Linked DNA regions of Homo sapiens: region 1 is linked to region 2. Evidence: fine-mapped QTL for protein levels in blood plasma. Region 2 holds a variant in brackets. A gene starts in the other region. All regions are shown on their forward strands.

What was found. PIP is the posterior inclusion probability: the model's chance that the variant is causal. The UK Biobank Pharma Proteomics Project read protein levels with antibody pairs (Olink). The fine-mapping took linkage between variants from a reference panel, not from the people measured, so its PIPs are less certain.
Region 1: CTRL starts here. The variant in region 2 is fine-mapped to the plasma level of the CTRL protein (UK Biobank, PIP 0.97).

What each region holds. Positions count from the first base shown.
Region 1 is chr16:67,927,487-67,935,755 of GRCh38, forward strand. It overlaps CTRL (chymotrypsin like), which reads right to left and starts at 4,376. Exons shown (of 7, transcript NM_001907.3): 1 at 4,315-4,376; 2 at 3,612-3,715; 3 at 3,434-3,513; 4 at 3,240-3,321; 5 at 2,922-3,102; 6 at 2,699-2,832; 7 at 2,088-2,609. The coding sequence starts at 4,366. The coding sequence ends at 2,448. It overlaps PSKH1 (protein serine kinase H1), which reads left to right. Exons shown (of 3, transcript NM_006742.3): 3 at 1-2,190. The coding sequence ends at 156. It overlaps PSMB10 (proteasome 20S subunit beta 10), which reads right to left. Exons shown (of 8, transcript NM_002801.4): 5 at 8,096-8,211; 6 at 7,934-7,992; 7 at 7,311-7,462; 8 at 7,020-7,185. The coding sequence ends at 7,074. RefSeq lists enhancers at 1,360-2,070, 2,833-3,350, 3,351-3,867, 7,934-8,133.
Region 2 is chr1:200,017,876-200,026,203 of GRCh38, forward strand. No RefSeq gene overlaps it. Among named protein-coding and RNA genes, the nearest start is that of NR5A2, 5.7 kb to the right of the region's middle. The variant A/G (reference allele first, on the strand shown) is at 3,776.

The DNA.
Region 1 (8,269 bases), not on the chromosome of region 2:
AACCTCCTTAAACGTGCCTCCTCGCGCTGCCAGAGCACCAAATCTGCCCAGTCCACGCGTTCCAGCCGCTCCACACGCTCCAATAAGTCACGCCGTGTGCGGGAACGGGAGCTGCGGGAGCTCAACCTGCGCTACCAGCAGCAATACAATGGCTGAGCCGCCTGGCTGTGCACACATGCAGCACGACCCAGCCTGGCCACACACTGTGGTGCCATCTGGGTCCGATGCCCTCTCTGGAGATAGGCCTATGTGGCCCACAGTAGGTGAAGAATGTCTGGCTCCAGCCCTTTCTCTGTGCCTTCAGCAGCCCCTGTCCTCACCATGGGCCTGGGCCAGGTGTGACAGAGTAGAGGTAGCACAGGGGGCTGTGACTCCCCCTGAACTGGGAGCCTGGCCTGGCACTGATACCCCTCTTGGTGGGCAGCTGCTCTGGTGGAGTTGGGAAGGGATAGGACCTGGCCTTCACTGTCTCCCTTGCCCTTTGACTTTTCCCCAATCAAAGGGAACTGCAGTGCTGGGTGGAGTGTCCTGTGGCCTCAGGACCCTTTGGGACAGTTACTTCTGGGACCCCCTTTCCTCCACAGAGCCCTTCTCCCTGGTTTCACACATTCCCATGCATCCTGATCCTTAAGATTATGCTCCAGTGGGAGACCCTGGTAGGCACAAAGCTTGTGCCTTGACTGGACCCGTAGCCCCTGGCTAGGTCGAAACAGCCCTCCACCTCCCAGCCAAGATCTGTCTTCCTTCATGGTGCCTCCAGGGAGCCTTCCTGGTCCCAGGACCTCTGGTGGAGGGCCATGGCGTGGACCTTCACCCTTCTGGACTGTGTGGCCATGCTGGTCATCGGCTTGCCCAGGCTCCAGCCTCTCCAGATTCTGAGGGGTCTCAGCCCACCGCCCTTGGTGCCTTCTTTGTAGAGCCCACCGCTACCTCCCTCTCCCCGTTGGATGTCCATTCCATTCCCCAGGTGCCTCCTTCCCAACTGGGGGTGGTTAAAGGGAGCCCCACTGCTGCTACCTGGGGAATGGGGCACCTGGGGGCCAAGGCAGAGGGAAGGGGGTCCTCCCGATTAGGGTCGAGTGTCAGCCTGGGTTCTATCCTTTGGTGCAGCCCCATTGCCTTTTCCCTTCAGGCTCTGTTGCTCCCTCCTCTGCAGCTGCACGAAGGCGCCATCTGGTGTCTGCATGGGTGTTGGCAGCCTGGGAGTGATCACTGCACGCCCATCGTGCACACCTGCCCATCGTGCACACCCACCCATGGTGCACACCTGTAGTCCTCCATGAGGACATGGGAAGGTAGGAGTTGCCGCCCTGGGGGAGGGTCCCGGGCTGCTCACCTCTCCCCTTCTGCTGAGCTTCTGCGCACCCCTCCCTGGAACTTAGCCATACTGTGTGACCTGCCTCTGAAACCAGGGTGCCAGGGGCACTGCCTTCTCACAGCTGGCCTTGCCCCGTCCACCCTGTGCTGCTTCCCTTCACAGCATTAACCTTCCAGTCTGGGTCCCACTGAGCCTCAAGCTGGAAGGAGCCCCTGCGGGAGGTGGGTGGGGTTGGGTGGCTGCTTTCCCAGAGGCCTGAGCCAGAACCATCCCCATTTCTTTTGTGGTATCTCCCCCTACCACAAACCAGGCTGGAACCCAAGCCCCTTCCTCCACAGCTGCCTTCAGTGGGTAGAATGGGGCCAGGGCCCAGCTTTGGCCTTAGCTTGACGGCAGGGCCCCTGCCATTGCAGGAGGGTTTGGTTCCCACTCAGCTTCTGCCGGTCGGCAGCCTGGGCCAGGCCCTTTTCCTGCATGTGCCACCTCCAGTGGGAAACAAAACTAAAGAGACCACTCTGTGCCAAGTCGACTATGCCTTAGACACATCCTCCTACCGTCCCCAATGCCCCCTGGGCAGGAGGCAGTGGAGAACCAAGCCCCATGGCCTCAGAATTTCCCCCCAGTTCCCCAAGTGTCTCTGGGGACCTGAAGCCCTGGGGCTTACGTTCTCTCTTGCCCAGGGTGGGCCTGGTCCTGAGGGCAGGACAGGGGGTTTGGAGATGTGGGCCTTTGATAGACCCACTTGGGCCTTCATGCCATGGCCTGTGGATGGAGAATGTGCAGTTATTTATTATGCGTATTCAGTTTGTAAACGTATCCTCTGTATTCAGTAAACAGGCTGCCTCTCCAGGGAGGGCTGCCATTCATTCCAACAGTTCTGGCTTCTTGCTGTAGGACCAAGGGGTTGCCCTGGAGGAGGGGTGGGGGCCCCGGCCTCGGCATGGCTACTCTAGGAAGAGCCACTGCTACTCAAGGAGTCACTCAGCCCCTTCTGTGCCAGAAGTCCAAGTAGGGAGTCGGACCCTCAACAGCCTCTTCTTTCTCCTGAGCCAGGAAGACAGACATGAATGCATGATGGGACAGGGCCTGGGTCTTTAATGGGTTGAGCTGGGGAGGGCCTGTGGTGAGCTCAGTTGTAGGCTATGACCTGGTTGATCCAGGTGCTGAACTTGCTAACTCGAGTATACACAGCAGGTGCGCGCACATTGCAGTTTTTGGTGCCCCAGGAGACAATACCAATAAGCACCCATGTGTTTCCCTTCTGGCAGACAAGAGGGCCTCCGGAGTCACCCTGAGAGGGAAGAGGGAGGGAGAATTGAGTAGGGGGGGTTGGGGAGGTATACCACAGGACAGCGCAGAGGAGCGGGTGCTGGGGCTTACCTGGCACGAGGAGGCACCTGCGCCACCTGCACAGATCATGGAGTCAGTGATACTTGAGCCCCAGTACTGCCGGCACTGATTCACAGTGACCAGGGGCAAAGCCACCTGCTGCAGATGTGCTGGTGTCACATTGCCTGTGGGCCAGGAGGGGTGGTCACATGGGGCCCAGAACACTGGTCCCCACCCCAGTCCTCCCACCCTGAGCTTTGGCCTGAGTCCCTACCCACGCCACTGAGGCGACCCCAGCCGGTGGTGACACACGTGAGGCCTTCAGTCAGAGCCTCGTTTGAGGATGCCAGGCAAACTGGCGAGATGCGTGTTGTGTACTGGGCTGGCGAGGCGAGCTTCAGCAGCGTCACGTCATTGTTCATGGTGGTAGAGTTCCAGCTAGGGTGTGTAATGGCCTGTGGGGTCAGAAACAGTCCATGTTCTGATGGGTGCTGAGCAGGGTAGGCCAGGGCATGTCCTGAATTCCTCGTTCCCAGCACCCACCCACCTGCACTGCCCACTTTTCCTCCGTGTCTGCAGCCCAGGCACTCACCCGAGAGACGGACAGAACCTGCAAGGGCTCTGCGTTTGATGATCGGTCATACTCGCCCAGGACAACAAAATGGCGGCCAGGGCTGCAAGGGGGTGGGATTAGGCAGCTGCAGGGAGGCCAGCGCGAGAGGGGGACAGCCAGGGGAGGAGGCAGGAAGAGGCGAGGGGCGGGGCAGGTGGAATGCAGGCACTCACCTGACATTGCAGTGGGCAGCAGTGACCACCCAGGACTGGCTGATGAGAGAACCACCGCAGAAGTGGAAGCCGCTGCTGTCCTGTGGTCAGGGCTCAGAGGTCAGAGTGGGGGTGGGCTGCTGAGGCTGCCCCTAGGCATGACGTACCCAGGACCCTGCCCACCCCTCTGGTGGTGTACCTGCAGGGACACCTGCCAGGGCCAGGAGCCCAACACTGCATTCTCCCCGTTGACAATCCTCTGGCTGAAGCTCAGTGCCGGTTTGATGGCAGGAATGCCGCAGCCTGGCCATTGGGCTAATGAGGACCTGCTTCCCATGCCTCAGCCCATCTTTCCCCACCTCCTTTTGGGTGCCCCAGGCTGTGCACCCCAGAGAGGTCTGTCGAGAGGGTACAGCACTACCCCTTCCCCAACAGGGTACATGCAAGCACCTTCGGGCCCCACAGCTATCTTGGTTATCCCTATCCACCCAGTCCCCCAGCCCTGCTGTTCTCCTACATCTGTCTCCAGCCTAGTCCCCGCTGTTCCCCATCTCTACCCCTGGTCTCTCTGCCCCCTCCCGACCTGAACAGTTCATACCCTTCATGCAGCCAGAAGGTTCTTTCTAAAAGACATGGACAGGTCTTCCTGTCTCAGCTTCCTAAACCCTCCCGGGCTCCAGGGCCTGGCTCAATCTCTGGTCCTATTTGTGAGACCACCCCACCTCTTGCCCCCTCCCAGCCCTGCAGGCCTGTTCCCTGCTCCACTGCCCTGGCATATCCTGTTTCTTTTGCCCACTCTGTCCACCTTCGTCCCTTCCAGCCAGCCTAGCTCCTTCCCTGGGCTGTTGCTGGGAGCTGAGTTGCTCCCAGGGCTGAATCAGGGCTGGTCCTGGCCCACTCACCCCAGGAGGAGCCGAGGAGAACCAGGCTTAGGGTCAGGCTGAGCAGCAACATCGTGGCAGATGTGAGGTTGGGAGCTGGGTCTGGCTTTATGGGTCTTCTCGTCCTTGAGCTAAAGCTCCAGGCCTGAGGCCAGGCCAGCTGTGTAGACTCAGCCCCCTCCCACGCTCCAGGCAAGACAGGCCCTTTAGGCCAAGGTCCCCTGACCGAGACCTAGACTTATCAGACAGAGCCCAGGTGTGAGACTCACCTCTGCCACCTCCCAAAGCCTGGCCTCTAATTGGCTCCCAGAACCACCTCCCATTCCAAATGTTGAGCCCTCGGTACTGAGGACAGATGGTTAAATTAGGTCTATAGTGACAACCTGGTGGCTGGGATCACAGGAGTCACCCAGGGCTAACAAAGGCACCAGGCTTTCAGAGAAGGCCGCTCAGCGTCCAGGGTGTTCTGACTGGTGGATGGAATGCTCACTGCGGTCAACTTTGCTGTGAAGGGCCAGGGGCTGTGAGGTTCTGGCAGGCTGGGAGTCCTAACACATCATCGCAGTGGTTCCTCGTCCATTTGGAACAGGAGTCACAGGTCTGCTCAGAGATGGTGACTCTCCCACCAGCACGTGGTTGAGTTGTACACAAACTCGCATTTGTCTGGCGCTGAAGCCTCCGCTCTTAACAATGAGATGATACTTATGAAGGGCCTGGCATTTAGGAGGGCAAAGTGTGAGCTCTTGGTGCCTGGCCGACCGTGGACTGAGGCTGCAGGTGGAGAGTGACAGACATCAAATCTCTGCCACCCTCTTTAGGCCTTGGGGCTCCCATGGGCAAGCCCCTGGTGTCTGTAGCCCATTTGTTACTGAGCTGCAGACCAAGCTTGAAGGGAGAAGACACCCTGTGTGCAAAGTTCCAACAGGTGCATTGGCTGGCGGCCTTCTGGGAGTGTGAGGGCTTTAACTGATTCAAGAACAGATCAGGGCTGGGTGTGGTGGCTCACACCTGTAATCCCAAAACTTTGGGAGGCAGACGTAGGAGGCTTGATTCCAGGAGTTCGAGACCAGCCTGAGCAACATCATGAAACCCTGTCTCTACAAAAAAAATTTTTTTAAATTAAGAAATGAGCTGGGTATGATGGTACACACCTGTAGTCCCAGCAACTCAGAAGGCTGAGGCAGGAGGGATCACTTGAGCCCTTAAGTTCAAGGCTGCAGTGAGCCATGAGTGCACCACTGCATTCCGGCCTGGGCGATGGAGCTAGACCCCATCTCAAAGAAACAGCATCAGCCAAAAAATGAGATGAATTGGCTGGGCACGGTGGCTCACGCCTGTAATCCCAGCACTTTGGGAGGCCGACGCGGGCGGATCATGAGGTCAGGAGATCAAGACCATCCTGGCTAACAGGTTCAGTAGAAACCTCGTCTCTACTAAAAATACAAAAAAAAAAAAAATTAGCCGGGCGTGGTGGCGGGCACCTGTAGTCCCAGCTACTCGGGAGGCTGAGGCAGGAGAATGGCGTGAACCTGGGAGGCGGAGCTTCCAGTGAGCTGAGATTGCGCCACTGCACTCCAGAGCCTGGGTGACAGAGCGAGACTCCGTCTCAAAAAAAAAAAAAAAAAAAAGGAGCGATGAATTAATGGATAGAGGGATGAATAGATGATAAAACAAATATAACAAAATATTTGCACTCCAGAGCCTGGGTGACAGAGCGAGACGCCGTCTCAAAAAAAAAAAAAAAAAAAAAAAAAGGAGCGATGAATTAATGGATAGAGGGATGAATAGATGATAAAACAAATATAACAAAATACTGTCAGGTCTGTGGTGACCTGACAGTATAAGGGTATTCAATATACAACTCTTTCTACTTTTCTGTTACATTTACAAATGTTCATTAATAGAATGTTGGGGTGCAGGGAGCACACTCAGCGGCCTGGGGATGTGCAGCCCGGCATAGACCCTCCCTGGGCCCTGGGTAGACTCTCCCTGACATTTCTGAAGCTCCAGCGGAGTTCAGCCGTTCTCGCTGAGGACAGGATGCTCTTGCTGGCACCCAGCAGCCAGGCCTGAGACTCAGCAGGGGCCCAGCAAAGGTTTGTTGGAGAAACGTGTCATCTCTCCCCATGTGAGTCCTGTGACCCTTATTAGCCTGGAAAACTTGGAGTCACAAGCCCAGCATGTGCAGACAGAAGACGAGCTTCACGTGAGCAGTGCAGGCATGCCTCGTCATCTAAGGGGTGTCACAGGTAAAGATGTTGCGAGGTTGAGGAGTGCTTGGTGAGAACTTGCCTTGGAGTCAGGGAGCGGCTCCTCTTGTCAGCACTTTAGCCCTCAGTGGGGCCTGTGGGGGCCTGATTGAAAGGTATGAGCTTTGTCCTGGGCCACTGAGGAGCCATGGAAAGTCTCTAGGAGGGGGTAGTACATGGGGTATTTCATAATTTACAAGTCTCCAGTGGACTAGAGGGCAAGAGCAAGACAGTGGAGTGGTGGGGGAGCCTTCAAGTGTGGAGTCAGAAGGAAGGTTTGGGTGGAGACCAAGCCTGCAATGCTGGCCAGGGCTGGGGTTCTGGAGTTGTAGGTGCCTGAGGTTATGGGTGAAGGGCATCTCTTAGGCCAGACACTAGAGCTATGGTAGGTAATGGCCCCTGCAGGGACGCCTTAGCTACAGAGCCCTGCTGGCTGCCTGCCCACCCCATTCCACTCAAGAATGACACAGCCATCTGTTTAACTGTATTTTCTGGGTTTATTCCCCCTTGTTCCAAGCTCTAAGCCTCAGCTTACTCCACCTCCATAGCCTGCACAGTTTCCTCCACTAGCTCCAGGGTTAGTGGCTTCACTGTCTGGGTCAGGACAGCTGTGGTTCCAGGCACAAAGTGGTAGCGGCCAGACCTGGGAGGGAGGAGGGACAGCCTCTGAACATGGGCCTGTCATGTGGCCCATCCCCTTTTTGCAGCCCCCTATCTCCCCTGCTATAGCCCCACACATCCCTGTGGTCCCCGATCTCCAGCTCTCACCTCTTCACGGGCTCTGTGGGTGAGCTCAGTGTCCGCAGCAGCTTGGCGCCAGTCTTTGTGATCACACATGCGTCCACATTGCCCCCGGAGCCCAGGTCACCCAAGATCCCGGCGGTGACGGCTTCCACCAGCAGCCCCTGAGCAGCCTCCAGCTGCGGTGATGGGTGTGTGAGACCTAACGGGCTCTCTCTGCTGTTAACTTAGGCTACAGCCTGGGGACTTGCCTGTCCACTTACCCAATCTGGTCTTGCCCTCCAAACCCCCACTGTGTTTCTCCCTCTGAGCCTTAGCCACCTCTGAGGCAACATCACCTGCTTCCATCCCACCCCAAACAAAATCTAGGCTCCAGACGTTGATATAAGTAGGACCCTACTGGTCCTTCTCTCCGCCCTCGGCTCCTAAAGATCCTCTGTGAGCTTCGACTTCTCCCAGCCGTGCAGGCTTTGGTATTGGACGGTGTTATGTCGGGACCGCACTTCTCTGCCCTTACTCCACTCACCCTTCAGTGGTCACCTCCTCCGACAAGCCTTAGCCACCCGCACTGGGCCAGGGTCCTGTGCTCCCCCAGCTCCCGGGTGCACATCCCACCAGCGACCACAAAGTCGGGGACAGAGGCCGCTCACCGTCATGTTCGGCTGGAACCGGTCTTCTAGCACCGCCAGGGCCGCGTCCTGACCAGAGCCTGAAGGCAGGAGAAGCATCTGAAGTCAACCGCTGCGACGCCGTTTGGAGTGAGGCCAAGGTCACAGGGGCAGAGTTCGAGGAGAAGGGACAGAAGCGCTCACCCAGGGCTGTGAAGGGCAGACGGCTGTAGGAGCCATGGGGATGCACACCGTAGAGCTGCGGTCCAGTCAGGTCTACGCCGCCCACGATCAGCGATGCACCCACGTGGCCCTGGTACCTGCTCGAGGATGGGCGGGGTCGGCCACAAGCTGGGGCCTAGGCCCCACCTCTCTATG
Region 2 (8,328 bases):
TCACTGCAGCCTCAACCTCCCAGGCTCAAAAAATCTTCCTGCCTTAGGCCCCTGCCTAGCTGGGACCACAGGTTCATGCCATCACACCTGGTTAACTTTTTTAGTTTTTGTAGAGATGGGGTCTCATTTTGCTGTTCAGGCTGCTCTTGAATTCCTGGGTTCAAGTGGTCGTCCTGCTTTGGCCTCCCAAAGTGCTGGAATTACACGACCAGCCAATATTTAAATATTTAAATACACAGATATCTCCTAGAAGAAAATACTTTAAAACATGATCTCAGAATGTCAGGATTACAGGTGATTCATGTATCTTTCCTTTTGCTTGTCCACTAAATTGTTTTAATCTCTTTTTTTGCATACAGACTTTTATATAAATGCATAAATGTGATCATAAATTTATACTTTATTTTCTCCTTTTTTGCTTGATTCTTTCACTCATGTAGTTGCTTGATTGCTCATGCAACAATAAATTCTTCCCATGAATACTTCACTTTTTTTCCTTCTAGAATATGAATCCTGATATTTCACTCTTTTTTTTGTTCCAACACAAGGTCTCAATATCCCCCAGGCTGGAGTACAGTGGCATAATCACTGTACTCACTGTAGCTCACTGTAGCCTTGAACTCTTGGGCTCAAGTGATCCTCCCACCTCAGCCTCCCAAAGTGCTGAGATTACAGACATGAGGCACTGCACTCGGCCTATTATTCTTTTTTTTTTTTTTTAAGTGGCATTCAAAATGAAAAATATCTGGCCAGGCATGGTGGCTCACACCTGTAATCCGAGCACTTTCGGAGGCTAAGGCAGGTGGATCACCTGAGGTCAAAAGTTCGAGACCAGCCTGCCCAACATGGTGAAACCCTGTCTCTACTAAAAATACAAAAAATCAGCTGGTTGTGGTGGCAAGAGCCTGTAATCCTAGTTACTCGGGAGGCTGAGGCAGGACAATCATTTGAACCTGGGAGGCAGAGGTTGCAGTGAGCTGAAATCGTGCCATTGCCCTCCAGCCTGGGCAACAAGAGGGAGACCCCGTCTCAAAAAGAAAAAAAAAAAGAAAATGAATGAGTTTCATTTGGGGCATTATGCATATGTTTACTGAAGGACATATATAAGGACACAGTGCATTACCAACTCTGTTTACAGTTCTTTGAGTTTCTCCAGTGTATACCAGCAATATTAATATTGATAGCAAATGTATTGGCTGCCATGTTCCAGGCATACATACCATTAAATTCACAAAATAATTTGTCAAGCATTATAATAGCATTTCAAGCAATATAATAGCATTGAAGTCAGACATGGATTTGAGTCCAGCTCTATCAATCATATACCATCTGTGTAGCATTGGTCAAATTACTTAAAATTTTCAAGCATTAATTTTTCTCATATATAAAATAGAGGTAAATAAATTTTTTTTAAACTAAGTGATAGAACGTATGTAAAGCACTTAAAAGAGCGTCTGGCATAATTATGTGCTCAATAAGTGTAGAAATGGCCAGGCACAGTGGCTTATGCCTGTAATTTTAGCACTTTGGGAGGCTGAGATGGGAGGATCACTTGAGGCCAGGAGTTCGAGACCAGCCTGGGCAACATAGTGAGACCCTCATCTCTATTTTTTAAAAAGGCAAAAAGAAAAAATGAAGATAAAAAAGTGTAGAAATAATATGTGAGTGTACAGATGTAAAGAAGGCTTGAAAATGTAGTCAAAAATCACATTTCTATTTACAGAGCTGTTCCAATTCTAATGTATCCTAATATTAGTATAAGTAAAATAAAGTTTTAAGATCATTTAGTATGATCTTAAAGCTTGAGATTATACTAAATGGTCTTAAAGCAAAAAGGCACAATTTTTTTTTTTTTTTTTGAGACAGAGTTTCACTCGTTTCCCAGGCTGGAGTGCAATGGCACGATCTTGGCTCACTGCAACCTCTGCCTCCCGGGTTCAAGCGATTCTCCTGCCTTAGCCTGCCAAGTAGCTGGGATTACAGGCACGTGTCACCACGCCCAGCTAATTTTGTACTTTTAGTAGAGATGAGTTTTCTCCATGTTGGTCAGGCTGGTCTCAAACTCCCGACTCAGGTGATCCACCCACCTCGGCCTCCCAAAGTGCTAGGATTACAGGCATGAGCCACCACATAAGCCTCTTTTTAAAAAAATTATTAGGTAAATATAGAAAAAGTGGATAGGTCGTGACCTTCTGAAAAATGCAAACGGATCAGGAAAATCTAAAATGCTAATATTTAGTATCAAAATAATGCTTGAGGGTATAAGTTGTCAGATTCATGGAAATAAAAAAGGTAGAAACTGAGCCTATGTTTTTGAAACTCTTTTTGGTTTTACAATTTCATATAGTATAAAGTGACCTTTTTAAGTATCCTCAGTGTCTTTTAATTAACTCTTTCTTTCTTTTTCTTTTTCTTTTCTTTTTTTTTTTTTTGAGATGCTTTGTCACCCAGGTTGGAGTGCAGTGGCCACATCCGCCTCCTGTGTTCAAGCAGTTCTCGTGCCTCAGCCTCCCAAATGGCTGGGATTATAGGTGCACACCAACACACCTAGCTAATTTTTGTATTTTTAGTAGAGCCAGGGTTTCACCATGTAAAACGCTGGCACACACCTGTGCCACACACCTGTAGATCTGTGATTAGTCAAAATAGCATAAATGCAGATATGTTATATGTTCTATTATATTTAAGAAAGAAAGGATAAAACCAAAAAGGAAAGAGTTAATTGGCTGGGCGTGTTGGCTCACGCCTGTTATCCAGCACTTTGGGAGCCGAGGCCGGTGGATTACTTGAGGTCAAGAGTTTGAGACCAGCCTGGCCAACATGGTGTGTGCCACCATATAGCTAATTTTGTTTATTTTTTATAGAGATGAGGTCTCATTATGTTGTTCAGGCTGGTCTTGAACTCTTGGGCTCAAGTTATTCTCCTGCCTAAGCCTCCCAAAGTGCTGGGATTACAGGTGTGAGCCATCATGCCCAGATACATTTTTTTTTATTAAAAATAATATTATTTGTATTTTCTTATTTCGCAAAAGACTGAGAGGGCAAAAAAAAAAGTTGATTAAAATCACTGAAACATAAATCAAAATTGAGTTATATAGCCCCATGTAAGTTTCACCCATATGAAATATTTCAGTCTAGAGGAAAATCTATTATTTGAATGATTGTTTTATTTATGTAGTCTGCCAGACTATTAGGTAATATATAACATCCAGTTTCATGAATTAAGAGTGCCTGAGATGGCTGGGTGTGGTGGCTCATGCCTGTAATCCCAGCACTTTGGGAGGCCAAGGCAGGTGGATAACCTGAGGTCAGGAGTTTGAGACCAGCTTGGCCAACATGGCAAAACCCTATCTCTACGAAAAATACAAAAATTAGCCGGGTATGGTGACATGTGCCTGCAGTCCCAGCTACTTGGGAAACTGAGGCAGGGGAATAGGTTGAACCCAGGAGATGGAGGTTGCAGTGAGCCGAGATTGTGCGGCTGCACTGTAGCCTGGACAACAGAACAAGACTTTGTCTCAAAAAAAAAAAAAAATGCTTGAGATCTATTTTGTTGCTTTGTGTTTTAATAATAATTATGCTGTGATTCCTAGGGAAATCACTTTGGATATGCTACAGTTTCCTCTTTTAAAAACAATTTAGATCATTTAGTTGTTTGCTTAAATGTCTTTAAAGGCCTTAAATTGAAACAAAATGATATTGAGTTTATTTCTTGTACTCTAAATAAAGATATGAACTATGAGCCATCAGACACAGATCATAGATTGTGATAAAC[A/G]TGGGGAACTCAGCACAAGCCTACAAGAGAGTAAAGTCTTAAACATTCAATTGCCAAAAGATTGACTAAGGCTCTGTTTAATTATTGGTGTTATAAAAAGTGAGTAATATTTACCTGGCCATAATCGTATTGTGTAAAAGTCACTTATCTTTCCTGCCAGGTGCCACATTTCTCACAGTTATTTAAAAGAATGAGAAGAAATCTTTACTCAGTCACTCCTTTCCAAAATGTACCATTCCATCATCTTATATAATTTGGCAGAGGAGAGGATTATTAAGAAAGTTGATAAAAAATAAAAAGTGCCAACCCTAGCTCAGGTTCTGTACAAAATCAGTGACAAATGCCTATGTTAGCAAAGGGTACAAGCAAAAATGCACTACTAAGCAATGCTTTGGCAGTAACTAACTGGTTCAGTACTTATAAGACTTCTGTTAAAAACTCCTCCATATCTGATGCAATCAGTCTATTTGAATGATGAAAATTTTAAGGTGTTTGTTGTTAATAAACCCATATTATAAACATACTGAAAGGGCCTTTCTAGTTTGTTCATGCAAGGGGTTAATGATAAATCCAATTTTGCAGGAATATCAATTCCTAATAGATATGTCATAATGTCTTGGAATAGTGTTGTCACGAAGTTTACACTGACTGTAATTCATTAACTAAACTTTAACATCATCATGCAATATGGGTTCAGGTGACATTGTTGAATACTTTTTGGATTTTGGCAAAGATGCCTTAGAGTCATTAGTTATCTGTCAATAATTTACGAATCCTTTCTGAAATCTGTTAGCAAATATTTTTTATCATTATAAACATATTCTTGTAAATGTGAGTCATTAGAAGTATTCCATGTTGTGGTATCGAATGAGTTCAATGGGGTAGTGAAGGTGTTTAAAACAGAATGTTGTAATGGAAAATGCCCACACTTGCCAAATGGAAAGGGTCAGATGATACCTTGATTGAGAAAAAATAAATACAAAAACTGAGGGTGTGATTTGTTTTGTGTCCTCCCCCCCGCATGGCCAGAACATAAATTGCTTGTTAACTGTCACTGAGGCTGAGTCCCAAGCATCTGTTATTTGTACCACATGTGAACATTACTCTAGCCTCACTTTCAGAAAAATATGTTCATTTCTCACAAAGTACTGAGTACGTATTTCTATTCAATCAGCCTGATGGATAAGCTTCAAAGGACCAAAGTAACTCATTAATATAATGTTTCCTCAACAAGCCAGTGAGTTTTGTAGGAAAGCAAGAGAGTGACAAATGGCAAATAGTGTCTTTTAAAGATTCTGTTAGGAGTTATTAGGCAAGCTGGTAATACTACCACCCCCAATTTTTTGTACATTCTTAAAAATAATTATGTCTGATTAGAGGCAGACAGTATAGCATGAAATTCAATCTTTGTGCTATTACATGCTTTGTTAACCATGTACAATAAGGATGAGAAAAAAAGCAAATCACTTTATTTTTGGATTTATTATTATTAATAATTATTTATTCCTTATTCCTCATTATTTATTATTTCATTTATTATTTAAGAGATAGAGTGTCACTATATTGTGCAGGCTGGTCTCAAACTCCTGCCCTCAAGTGATCCTCTTGCTTCAGCCTTTCAAAGTGCTAGGATTTCAGGTGTTAAGCCACCGTGCCCAGCCACAAATCACTTTATGATGCTGTTTAATTATATGAATCCTATGAGGTCTTCTATAAGGTCTCTAATAGTGTATGTGACTAGGATAGAACTGGTGTCAGAAACAAAACCCAAAAACAGAAACTTTCGTATGTCTTCTAAAATTCCACTAAGGAAGATGTGTCTTTCACTTAAGATCCCAAGTCACAAAGCCCATAATCACTTTTTTTTTTTTTTTTTTGAGATGGAGTGTCACTTTGTCACCCAGGCTGGAGTGCAGTGGCACGATCTTGGCTCACTGCAACTTCCGTCTCCTGGGTTCAAGCAATTCTCCTGCCTCAGCCTCCAGAGTAGCTGGGATTACAGGCGTGTACCACCTTGCCCAGTTAATTTTTTGTATTTTTAGTAGAGACAGGGTTTCACCATGTTGGCCAGGCTGGTCTTGAACTCCTGATGACAAGTGATCCACCTGCCTCAGCCTCCCAAAGTGCTGGGATTACAGGTGTGAGCCACTGCGCCCAACCTCCATATTCACTTTTGATGACACGTTGAGTACTTTCTTTCTCTGACATGATACTGAGTACTTTATTTCTCATTTACATCTTACCACAAAAACTACTGGATTTCATCATTTTTGTCATTTTTACTTATGAGGAATTCAAGCCTTAAAAAAGCCAAGCATTACTTTGCCACCAAGAAGGAGGCAAAGTACAAATGGAAGCCCTGAGCTTTCTGACCTCAAATCCTAGGCTCTTAACCACCCTGCTACCCTGCCTTCATTCTTACCATGATCTCATAATTTGTGCTTATATAGGCTGCATTCAGCAACCCAAACTGACTGGTTTCCTCAGGAAAACTGTCAGAGCTACAACCAGTGCATTGAGAGGATCCGATGGACTATGTAATTTTATGGACTGAATGATATGAAAGGCCTCAGGAAATGTGTATCCAACACTTTGGCAGGTGTAAAAGAAGACCTACATATTTCAAAGCAGTTACAGATGCAAAATACGTCCATAGAAATATATGTTCCACACACTTGGAAGGCTAAGGCAGGAGGATCGCTTGAGCCCAGGAGTTCGACACCAGCCTGGGCAACATGGTGATATACTGTCCCTACAAAAAAATACAAAAATTAGCTGGGCCTCATGGCTCACACCTGTAATCCCAGCACTCTGGGAGGTCGAGGTGGGTGGATCACCTGAGGTCAGGAGTTTGAGACCATCCTGGCCAACATGGTGAAACCCCATCTTTACTAAAAATACAAAAATTAGCTGGGCGTGGTGGTGGGTGCCCGTAATCCCAGCTACTTGGGAGGCTGACATAGAAGAATCACTTGAACCCGGGAGGTGGAGGTTGCAGTGAACCGAGATCATGCCACTGCACTCCAGCCTGGGTGACAGAGTGAGACCTTGTCAAGAAAGAAAGAAGAAAGAAAAGAGAAAGAAGGAAAGAAGGAAAGGAAGGAAGGAAGGAAGGAAGGAAGGAAGGAGAGGGGGAAGGGAGGGGAGGGGCGAGGGGAGGAGGGGAGGGGAGAGGAGAGGAGAGGAAAGGAGAGGGAGAAAAAGAGAGAGAGAGAGAGAAAGAGAGAGAGAGAGAAGATGGGGAAGGTCCCTTCTGGGTTTCCATCTAAAATCAAAGAAGAAATCATTGGTTTCAATAATAATATTTTAAAATCCACCCTATGATTTTTTTTTCTTTAAAAGAAAAATATCAATCTAAGAAAATAATACCTAACATGGTGTTAATGAAAAGTAGGTTGGATTGGTTATGTGTACATAAGAACTTAAAGCTCAAAGGAAAAACAGCACGTATACCAGCATGTTGACCTGGCTCCGCTGACAGCCAGGATTACCAGTTATTTCACTTGGTGTGTACCAGTGCTACTTGGAAACTACCCACCTTCCATGAGCAGGTCTACTCAATAAAATCTTACTTTCATGAGGCTGTGAGGATATCCAAATGGGGACATTTCTTATACTCAGAAGACCACAAGTCACGAATGTGGCCACTTCTGATTCTGACTTCAGGGGTCACCCAGACCCCAAGCCACCCCAACCCGATAAAGGCAAGTTCACCTTGGGCAAAGTTCAGAGCCAGCAGCACAGCTGAAAGGCAGTGGACAGCACTTTCAGATGCTGTATTCCAACATTTCAACTGACATGAAGTGAGGCAAGAGGGGAAATAACTAACAGTAATCTGATTAAAAAACAAAAGAGAAAAAAAAAAGGGCCTGGTGTGGTGGCTCATGCCTGTAATCCCAGCACTTTGGGAGGCCGAGGCGGGTGAATCACCTGAGGTCAGGAGTTCGAGACCAGCCTGGCCAACATGGCAAAACCCCATCTCTACTAAAAATACAAAAATTAGCCGGGCATGGTGGCACGTACCTGTAATCCCAGCTACTAGGGGGGCTGAGGCAGGAGGATTGCTTGAACCTGGGAGGCGGAGGTTGCAGTGAGCCAAGATTGTACCACTGCAGTCCAGCCTGGGCAATGGAGCAAGACTCTGTCATTAAAAAAAAAAAAAAAAAAAGGACTGGCCTGGGTTTACAGGTAGCTCACACCTGTAATCTGAGCACTTGGGGAGGCTGAGGCAGGAGGACTGCTTGAACCCAGGAGACCAACCTGGGCAATACAGCAACACACTGTCTCTACAAAACATTTAAAAAATTAGCTGGGTGTGGTGGTACACATCTGTAGTCCTAGTTACTCAGGAGGCTGAGGCAGGAGGATTGCTTAAGTCCATGAGTCTGAGGTTGCAGTGAGCTATGACTGTGCCACTCCATTCCAGCCTGGGTGACAGAGTGAGATCCCATCTCTAAATAAATTAATAGACCATAAATTCTGTAATGTGAATCTTTAGACAAAGACTGCTAAATCTATCATCTGATATATGAAGTTTTATTACAACAAATGTT